2 separate regions of the Homo sapiens genome follow, and region 1 is linked to region 2. Evidence: fine-mapped expression QTL. A gene starts in region 2. The other region holds a variant in brackets. All regions are shown on one strand. Distances are from middle to middle. Region 1 has its middle 47 kb from the start of VDAC1. Region 2 holds the start of TCF7 (transcription factor 7).

Region 1 (5,366 bases), 63 kb before region 2:
CACATGGGTAGCACTGGGTTTCTAACCCAGGTCTAGCTGATGTCAAGACTGTTTTCCTAATAGTATGTATCACTGACTCCCTGTGAATATTTTCAGAAACAGCATTTAAAATGATTTCATACTATCCTTTAATTTAATTTTTAACTTATTTAAATAAATAGAGATAAGGTCTGTCTATGTTGCCCAGGATGGTCTCCAACTCCTGGCCTCAAGCAATCGTCCTACCTCCGCTTCCTAAAGTGCTGGAATGACAGGTGTGAGCCACCATGCCCACCCCTTGCTATTCCTCAATCACTGCAAATTTAGATTACTTTCTGGTTTTATTTTTTATTGCCATAAATAATTCTGCAATAAACAACTTGATGCATAACCCAACTCCATATTTAAGGGTTACTCATTAGCAAAAATTCCCCAGAAAGTGAATTACTAGTTCAATTGGTACAAACATTTCTAAAGTTTATTTTTTTGTTTGTTTTGTTTTTTAATACAGAGTCTCACTCTGTTGCCCAGGAGGGAGCGTAGTGTGATCTCAGCTCACTGCAACCTCCATCTCTCAGGTTCACGCAATTCTCCTGTCTCAGCCTCCCAAGTAGCTGGGAATACAGGCGCCCACCACCACATCTGGATAATTTTTGTATTTTTAGTAGAGATGGGGGTTTAGCCATGTTGGCCAGGCTTGTCTCAAACTCCTGACTTCAAGTGATTGGCCCCACTTGGCCTCCCACGGTGCTGGGATTACAGGTGTGAGCCACCCTGTTCCTGGCCTAAAGCTTTTGAGGTGTGTTTTTCCACTCAACTTTGTTTAGTTTAGCTTTTACATATGGAAATTTAGATGTACTAAATCCACCACCGCCCAGGCGCGGTGGCTCACGCCTGTAACCCCAGCACTTTGGGAGGCTGAGGACGGCGGATCATGAGGTCAAGTGATTGAGACCATCCTGGCCAACATGGTGAAACTCCGTTTCTACTAAAAATACAAAAATTAGCCAGGCGTGATGGTAGGCGCCTGTAGTCCCAGCAACTCGGGAGGCTGAGGCAGGAGAATTGCTTGAACCTGGGAGGTGGAGGTTGCAGTGAGCCGAGATCACGCCATTGCACTCTAGCCTGGCAAAAGAGCAAGACTCCGTCTAAAAGAAAATAAATAAATAAATAAATAAATGTGCCACCTTCTCTTGTTCAATATTATTCACTGTTTCCTGATTTGAAGTACTTTACCCTTCTACAGAAGTTAATAATTCTATTTTCTAGTGGTTGTACAGTTTGCTTTTAAATTATTCAATGCGTTAGTTCTTCAGCACACCCTTTGGGGGATGCACTGAAGAGAAGCCCCATTTACACTTCCAAGCCCCCCCAGCAACTGTTTCCTCTGGGCAGGGGGAGAGATGAAAGAGAATGCAAAATACTGAGTGTGAAATAGGGAGGCCGATGTCTTCCTAAATTACAGGGGAATGATTGCCCGTTCTTCTCCACATTAATGACTTTCTCTCAAAGTCTTCCACTTCTTCTTAGAAGCTTCCACAATGTACTGGTTGACTTGAAGTTAAGGCAGAATTCTCCTAATGGGAATTAGCCTAAGAAACTTCTTGAAAAACTCAAAGGATGCAAAAATTCTCAAAGTGGAATATTAAAAACATGTCAAATTGGAGATGAGGGTGTCACTGGGCATATCTGTGTTTGCTGAGTTGGCTTTGGGCGAGTGTGGTGGCAGAGTCAAGGTGGGGATGGAAGCAGGGGCTCAGGTGGATAAAAACAATCCACCCCTTCCCAGCAAAAAAGCCATCAGGAGTTTCTGGGGATAAGGAAGGGCCTTGCAAGTGAAGAGGCCTCTGGCGGTTCTTGAGGGCATGTGTGAACTCCTGGCTGAGGGGAGAGTTGGCAGTGTATTAGGCCTTATACAGTTGTATGTGTTGTGCCCTGCACAAGGGCACCTGGCCCGGGGAACCAGTGAGGCTGAAATCCACCCCATGCCCTCCAGCTAGAGGAGGACAGAGCACCTTCTTCCAGTTTCCTTGAAGGCACCCTGTGGGCCAACAGCTGTCTGGACTGTACAGACAGTGAGATGGAGAAGGAGCACTGCCCAGGAGCCAGGGGGGCCAGGCCCTAACTCCAACTCTCCCACAGCCCTCCAGATTGCAATGGTCCCAACCCAGCTCTGATGCTGAGCCCGCTCTCAGAGTCCACAGCAGCTCTGGCAGCACCCACAGTGGGCTAGGCCTGGGCTACAGTGAAGAAGGCGCCTTGGGATGCTTCTGCAGGTTAGGGCAACCAGACTAACCAACGTTCTTCAAACAAAAGACTGCTACAGAGTCACTTGCATTTTGGTTTGGGGCCAGAGCTTCTTCCACTGCCTTTTCCTTTCAGGCAGTGCCCTTCTGTGAGCTTGATCATTTGTGAGAACCTTGTTGAGTGAGTCAGCCAGTCCCCTTGCTCAATACCTGGATGTGACACCATCTGTTCCATATCTCTCTTCTTACAGATATTAAATGATGTTAATCATCAATACCAATCAACAGGGTTAAGGACACACTACCCCTAGTGCCTGGGCAGTTTGTTTTTTTTTTTTTTGGCTTTGTTTTTGTTTTTGTTTTTTTGTTTTTTTGAGATGGAGTCTTGCTCTGTTGCTTCAGCTGGAGTGCAATAGCACGATCTCGGCTCACTGCAACCTCCACCTCCCAGGTTCAAGTGATTCTCCCACCTCAGCCTCCCGAGTATCTGGGATTACAGGCACCTGTCATCATGCCCAGCTAATTTTTGTATCTTTGTAGAGACGGGGTTTCACCATGTTGGCCAGGCTGGTCTTGAACTCCTGAGCTCAGGTGATCCGCCCACCTCAGCCTCCCAAAGTGCTGGGATTACAGGGGTGAGCCACTGCATAAGGCCGAATATTTTAAGCTGAAGGAATCTGAGCAACAGCGGGTACAAGCAAGAAGGACTCTCTGACCTTCCCCTGAAGCAGGTCATAACCCCTCATTTGAAAGGCGCCCTCCCTCCACCAGCGGGAAAGGAAGATGCATCTTCTTACCTCTGAAGACAAAGAGAAATCTGAAGGGTCAAGCTTTCCTGGTTTTGCCCAGTTTGCTACTCTGATTGACCTCATTCTCTTTTGTCCTGTCACCTTTTCCCAC[A/C]ACTCTCCACTCTTCATTAAACCTGGTACAAAACGCAGGTTTAACTGTCTTCAGGTCTTCATTTCTCTATGAAGCCTCTTGTGTTATGTAAAACTTTTTTTTTTGAGACAAGGTCTCACTCTGTCACCCAGGCTGGAATGCAGTAGCTTGATCTTGGCTCACTGCAGCCTCGACCTTGCAGGTTCAAGCAATCCTCCCATGCTACCACGCCTGGCTAATTTTTGTATTTTTTTGTAGAGGCAAAGGTCTCTCCATGTTGTCCAGGCTGGTCTCGAACTCCTGGGCTCAAGTGATCCTCCCAAAGTGCTGGGATCACAGGCATGAGTCACCGTGCTCAACCAAAACTTATATTAAATAAGTTTGCATGCTTTTCTCTTGTTAAGCTGTCTTTTGTTATGGGTCCCTGCTGAGAACCTAGAAGGTTAAAAGGAAAGATGCTTCTCCCTCCCCTATTCAGTCCACTTCCTGAGCACTGCCATGGGCCAGGCGCTGTGCTAGGTGCTCTACACACATGCTCATTTAGCCCCGACACCATGCTGTGGGGAGCTACTGTTGCTCCCCCAACTTTGCAAAGTTAAGAAGCAGAAGCCCTGGCCGGGTGCGGTGGCTCATGCCTGTAATCCCAGCACTTTGGGAGGCCGAGGTGGGCCATCACCTGAGGTCAGGAGTTCTAGACCAGCCTGACCAATATGGTGAAACCCTGTCTCTACTAAAAATACAAAATCAGCTGGGCGTGGTGGTGCACGCCTGTAATCCCAGCTACCCGGGAGGCTGAGGCAGGAGAATCCCTTGAACCCAGGAGGTGGAGGTTGCGGTGAGCTGAGATAGCGCCATTGCACTCCAGCCTGGGCAACAAGAGTGAAACTCCGTCTCAAAAAAAAAGAAGAAAGAAATAAAAGAAACAGAAGCCCCAAATACCACAGTGCATAACTGAGCAGGGTTTGAATTCAGATCAGACTGACTCCAAATCCAGGCCCTGCTAACACCACTTTCTTTTTAAATGAGGAAAATGAAGCATGGAGTGGCCATGCCACTCGCCTGGTCACCCAGCAAGTCAGCAAAAAGATGGCTTTCAGTTCCTTCTGAAAAGCCCTCCATTCTACAAACAACCCCCTTCCAACCCGCACCCACCATGCCTGGGGATACTCTGCATTTTGTCAGTTTGCTGTGGGTCAATGGACCCATTGCCCAACCCTCCATCATTGTCTAGGGCTCCTGTGAGCCGTGCCAGGGGCAGGCGCCAGGAAGGAGGATCCTGCAGGAGGAAGCACTGAGCGCAGCCTGCATGGAGTCAGACCCGGAGGACCTCACCCCAGGGCAGCTGCTCTGGGAGGAAGCCTGGGGGGAAACAGAACAGGTTATGGACACCCCATCCTGTCCCCCTCAGCCCCATTCCGGGCCATTCCACATTGCATGGGTGGGACTTTCTCTCCAGCCTCCACTTTGCTGGGCAACTTAGTTAGCATCTCTGTGCTACCCAGTCAGGGCAGCCCACCCATACGGCAGTCAACCAGCGCCTGCCTTCACCTAGGGAAGATGCCTTTTTCCCTAAACCACAAGTCAACAAGTCAGAAACAGGGCTTCTTTCCATTCTCTATCTTTATGGTGGATTCCTCCCAGAGCTGGCATTTACTCCTACTCATTAAAAATGCAAAGAACCAAGTACAGCAACAGAGAAGTCTTACGTTATGACTTCCTGTGGGTTACAGGCCAGAGGAGGGAACAATCAGCTCCTTTGTTGTGCAAGCTGCTGTTTGTCACTGACAATGGCATTCTTAAGGAATTATGATATTAAGGATTTAATAACCATTTGGTATAAGCAGTAAAACATTTCAATTATGGCGTTTCTGGAAAGTACTGTCCTCATCTGTTGCAGGAATTTACAAGGTGTCTTTTAATTAAGTCGGTTCTAAATGAGACACCTTCTCAGTGTGGTAATTTTTTGAATGAAACTGCCCTGAAGTACTAATTAGTTTGTTTTTAATGCTTGATTTACTCTGCCAGCATGGTGGCTAGGGCGGGGCTGCCCTGCTGGAACTGGATGAATCTCCAGCAGGCAGGAACAAGGTGCAGCGGCTCAGGGCTCTCCTGGCTGGAGAAATGGAGGTAGTTCATTTCACCCTGGCAAGCTTCTAGACTCTCCCTGTTGAGAACTGACCATAGTCTGTCTTTCTTTTCTTTTCTCTTTTATTTTCCTTTCTTTCTTCCTTCCTTCCTTTTTTTTTTTTTTTTTCTTTTGAT
Region 2 (5,366 bases):
GGTTGGTCGTTGTGTAGACGATGGTGAAGGAATCAGTGCTGACTAGACCAGGGACTCCTGTGGGGCCGCACCAACTTCTGGGGAACAAATCAGAGCTCTTGTTCCTTTCCAGCTTTCCAAACCCTCCTAAGCCATCCAGGCCCACATGAAATCTACCTCCTTCAGGAAGCCACCCTGACTACTCTAGTCCACATTGATCTCACCATATCTGAGCTCTTTCTGTCCATTACCTGTATAGACTACTCTAGCACCTAAATCGGCTCTAATAACTCTTCAGCTTCTCAAAGCAGCCAATGGCTCCTGGAAGGCAGACACCTCTAGCCCTTCCCTCTCCACAGCCCAAGCCAGGGCTAGGTACACAGTAGATGATCCCTTAGCAAGCCTTCAGACTGATTTCAGTGTGGCTGTGGATGCCTGTGACTCAGCCCTTCTCTCCCTCACGCCTCCTCACAGTCCCACTCTCCCTACTCACCCACCCTCTCCTCTGGTTCCAGCCAGCAGGGTGGGGAGTTGGAGCTATGACCCCATAGGACAGTTGTTCCCAGACTATAAAATGTCCAAAGAAACTTGAGGGTGGGGGAGTTAACAGATGGGGAAAAAAATGTTCCTTATGTTCTTTCACCAAATAAAGACATGAAAAAAAACACTTGTCCCACCACCATTTTAGTAAAGAAAGGATGTTTTCACACCAATAAAGCAGTAAGGGCATAATCCTTGATTAAAGGCTAATACGAAGCTGGAAAGTTTTAACCTTATTGAGAAAACAAAACAAAACAAAAAGAACCTCACTGTTGTTGTGACTTTTCTCCTTTCTCCAAGGACTGGAGAACACTTCAGCCTCCACTGATCTGTGTCGGTGGAACTCATGGGTCTGGGGACAGCTATTCTGGAGGACGTTCCTGCTGAACCAGGGTTCCCTACAAACACATGAGGACCCCTAAAGCCATTGGGTTGGGCAGATCCGGATTCCCTTTCAGCTGTCCCAGAGGAGGCTCACCCTATGCCAGACCCTACCTATAACCTCAGGAGTTGAGGTGGCGGAGGCTCTGAACTCCCGTCCCTGTACCTCTCCCCTCCGGGCAGGGCCGAGCCCCCCCTTCCCCGCCAATCCGGAGCAGATGAGGCGAGACTAAGCGGCAAGCCCACCCTGGGAAGAGGCTGGGGAGACCTAATGGGCAGGGTCCCCCTCATCTCCATCACCAAGCTGAGCACTCGTGCCCATGCCACCCCCCAGCCCCAGCCTGGGGAAAGGAGGAAAAGTGGGCACCCTAGCCCGGAGGTGGCGGGGGAGGGGGGTGTGGGGGCTGGTGTCCGAGACACCCGGCTGGGCGGGCACAGATAGGATCTGAACACAGGGAAGCATGGCCTAGCTCTTTGATCCACAGCCAGCCACGCTGGGCCTGGACCCGGAGGGAGGCACGGCTGTCTTCCGGCCCGGCTTTGCACCGCTGCCAGGGGTCCTGTGGGGCCCTCAGAGGGAGAGGCGTCCAATACCCGGCCCTCCCCCAAATACCCTCTATCCCAACTGCTCTCAGAAGAGGCGTGAGCGTCTACAGTGAACCCAGCACAGAAACCTGCTAGGGGAGCTGCTGTTGACTGCATCGCGATCCAAAGGACCGGCGTCTTTTGTAGATGCAGGGGCTGAGCCAGGCCAAGCGCGCCGTGGAGGCCCGCGTGGACGCAGACCCGGGTGCCATACAGATGCGCTGGAATCCAGGCACTTTCCCGCGCTCCGCAAATCTAGATGTTTCAGCCTGGATCGAGCGAGGGTTAGAGGGTTAGTCAGGCCAGGGTCAACTTCAGAGTCATGGGCTCCCTAAATGCGACTTCTAGGGTTGAGTTGCTGTGGACGAGCGACCCATGTCGGAATCCCGCGCCCACGTGGCTGCCCAAAGTTCCGAGTCTCCGGGCTGCAGGTTCTAGTCACGGAACCGAGTTGGGAGAGTCATAGGGGCTGGGACTTGGAGGATCGGCTGAGGTCCGGTGCTCTTGGCTGTGTTCGCGGCTCGGAGCCGTCGCCTGACTGAGGGGCCCGTCACAGATGTGTGATGTATAAGCTCTGCACGCAACAGGAGCTCAATAAATGTGCGAAGGGGGGTATACTTATGTTCGCACTGTATGCAGGCGGCCTAGAAGGAAGTCCCTGATTGGCACAGGGATGGAGGATGGGGCAAGAGCCGCAACAGCGCCGCGGAGTTCCAACGCTGCCGGTTCCCTGGGGTACGAGCACAGCCTCAAGCAGCCTCAAGCCCTAGGAAGCCCCCAGTTCAAAGCACAGGGCGCATTGGAGCCTGGGCACGATACAGTTCACACCACGGCTGCGATGGTAAGCCACGCCCAAGTCCCAAGGGCCTAGGGGACCCCCGCCCTCCACAGCCGGAGGAGAAACCTGGGCGCAGAAAGCAGGGGGAATATCTGGTTGTAGGTGAGTAAGCGGGGTCAGGAGTTCCCGTTAGAGTCTCTGCGTTTCGGGAGAAGGGTGATCATTCCCAGGCTTGTCCGACGTCTCTCTCAGGGTGCGCTCCGGAAGAGCGAGCCCTTTAAGGCTATGCCGAGTGGGCGCGTCCCGGCCTCTCCCGGGAGAGGAGAGGCGGGGCGGACCTGTGTCCCGCCCCCGGCCCGGCCCGCCCCCAGTGCCCGCCCCGCCCCCGGCACTCGGCCGGCGGCGCCTTTGATGTTCCGACCCGCCAGCTCGCGGAGCCGCTCTGCCCCGCGCCCTAGCCCGCGCCTGCAGCCCGCCCAGGCGGAGTCAGCCCGCGCTCCGCCCGCCGCGATCCGAGCTCGGAGGTTCGGACTCCGGGCTCGCCGCCCCCCGGGCCGGCTCCGCGCCCCGCACTCCCGGCGCCCAGCGCCCCGCGCCCCGGCGGGCGGAGCGCACCATGCCGCAGCTGGACTCCGGCGGGGGCGGCGCGGGCGGCGGCGACGACCTCGGCGCGCCGGACGAGCTGCTGGCCTTCCAGGATGAAGGCGAGGAGCAGGACGACAAGAGCCGCGACAGCGCCGCCGGTCCCGAGCGCGACCTGGCCGAGCTCAAGTCGTCGCTCGTGAACGAGTCCGAGGGCGCGGCCGGCGGCGCAGGGATCCCGGGGGTCCCGGGGGCCGGCGCCGGGGCCCGCGGCGAGGCCGAGGTGAGCCCCCGCCGGCGCCGGCTCCTCCCCCGCGGTCGCCGCGCCGCGCCGCCCCAGTTGCGCGCGGCCCTCGGGGTCTCCAGCGCGCAGAGCGTCCCTGCCCCGGCGTCGGCCCCGACCCCCGCGGTCCCACCGCCCCTCACTCCCCTCCGGTTCTCCCTCCAGGCTCTCGGGCGGGAACACGCTGCGCAGAGACTCTTCCCGGACAAACTTCCAGAGCCCCTGGAGGACGGTGAGTTTCTGCCCGGCCCGGCTTCCCTTCGTCGCGCTCAGGCCCTGGCCTCGGTGGGACGGGGACGCCAAGGACCGCGGGGAGCCGGGTGCCTCCCCCACCGCAGCTCAGGAGGCGGCAGAACCCAGGGGTGGAGAGTGGGGGGCGGGCTTCCCGGGCGCCGCCGGGTCGAGTCACTTCCGGTGCCCTGACCTTTATAGGAGTAAACAGACCCCCGCCATCCCCGCCTCCCCTCCTGCCCAGGTGACTGACTAATCCGCCGCCTTCAGGAGACAGAATTGGCCAAGGTTTCTTGGTTGGAGGGCGGGGGGTGGGAGGTCAAGTAGGGGCCACCTCGGGGAGGCCTGCCCTCCAGGTCCTTCCCCTAAAACTTGGCACTGCCGATACTCCCAGCCCGTTCCTTCCCAAGTCAGGAACTTGCAGGGGACCCCTTGGCAATTCTTTTTCTCTCAAGAGCAGACAGCCTTCAGTCCCAGCCGCTGCCAGGGCTGGTGTGTCTGACCCAGCTGTGGTTTTTCCAGGCCTGAAGGCCCCGGAGTGCACCAGCGGCATGTACAAAGAGACCGTCTACTCCGCCTTCAATCTGCTCATGCATTACCCACCCCCCTCGGGAGCAGGGCAGCACCCCCAGCCGCAGCCCCCGCTGGTAAGTGGACCCCGCAGCCAGTGCCGCCCTGTGCTTGCAGCCTCCTTGACCAGGTAGGTGAGGCACCGGCAAGAGACTTCTGCCTGGAACAAAATAGACGAGACTCCTGTGCTGGTCTTTTCTCCCATACACACCCGGTGGGATCTGAACCAAAAGGAGAACTTTGCTGAAGGAAGGAGGGGCCGCCCTGGGGCACCCCCCTGCCCTCTGCCTCTTGGCTTTTGTCTTCCCAGCTTGCTCATAAGCAGGTGCAGGCTCTGTCCTGGTGCTGGGTGATGCCAGGGTGGGGTCTTCTTAGAGAACTTTTGAGCCGAGACCACCCTTGCTCCTCGCTGCTCTGATCTGAGCTCAGAGCTTTGCAATTAACTTTCTAACTAGCCCAGGAAACCCTGAGCCTCCTTGGCGCTTGGAGGAATGGGCAGGAAAGCTGATCTGTTCAGGTCCCCTGGTTGTGCAGGAGAAACGTGCTGTGTTCGGTCGGCTGTGTCCTGACGGGCGTGAGTGTACCGTTGCCAAAGAAGGACCCTGAACACCATGTGTGGAAAGTGGGTTCTTAGGAAACTGGCTTGGTCTCAGACATACCAGGAAGGGTTGGCAAAGGTGCTACAAATCAGTGATGTTGAGAAGGGACCAGTTTAATTAATTCGTGAATTAAATATTTTTAAGTCCCAGTGCTTTGAAAAGATTTCATGATCTTTACAAACCATGCCCATTGGTACAGATGACCTAAAGTGTGAAGAGCCTATTCTGAGTGTTTTGGAGCAGTACAGCTGCGCTTTTAAAGAAATTCCTATTCGTGTTTCACACTCTCCTCAGTTGGTCCAAGTTGGGGTGAAGGTACGTGGAAGGTTTGGAGGACTGTGGTAAGTGAGTGTTGGGTGTGAATGTAAGCCCAGTGCAGGTGGGGCTGGCAGGCTGGAGGCTCGCATGGCTACAGTGGGGTCACCAGAGGGAGGAGAGTTAAGTGCTAGGCTATTTCAGACCAGGAGTGAAGAGGGTGGTTCTGAGAGCTGCTGCATGCCAAGCCAGTGGGAATGAGAAGACATATAGGCTTCTTTCCAGAAGCCTAGGCTGGAAAGCCTATTCTATGGCTAGCTCTAGAAATGAGCTCCTTGCCCTTTGGGCCCTTATCTGTAAAATGAGTATGTTTTTCGAGTAGTCTCTGTATCCGACTTTCTGCTCTGGGGTGGCTTGGTATATGAGGTGGTTCACTTCCTTCCAAGTCTGTGAGATGGGGGGTGTGCCCCCCAGCATTCCCCCGCTGATGTAGTGACTACATCCAGAGAACTCACCCTGTGTGAGCCCATGCTTAACAAAGATGCGTTTTGGATCCCTACAAGATGTAAATAAACCCTTAGAT

Evidence for each region. PIP is the estimated chance that this variant, and not a neighbour inherited with it, causes the effect.
Region 1: its variant is the best candidate, but not a certain one, in a credible set for the expression of TCF7 in nasal epithelium (TOPMed, PIP 0.65).

The regions. Positions count from the first base shown.
Region 1 is chr5:134,049,118-134,054,483 of GRCh38, forward strand. It overlaps a transcript of VDAC1 not described here. Among named protein-coding and RNA genes, the nearest start is that of VDAC1, 47 kb to the left of the region's middle. RefSeq lists enhancers at 395-970, 2,697-3,272. The variant A/C (reference allele first, on the strand shown) is at 3,126.
Region 2 is chr5:134,112,028-134,117,393 of GRCh38, forward strand. TCF7 (transcription factor 7) reads left to right here and starts at 2,654. Exons shown (of 10, transcript NM_003202.5): 1 at 2,654-3,128; 2 at 3,294-3,360; 3 at 3,882-4,006. The coding sequence starts at 2,880. It also overlaps a transcript of VDAC1 not described here. RefSeq lists an enhancer at 2,291-2,520 and a silencer at 2,611-2,730.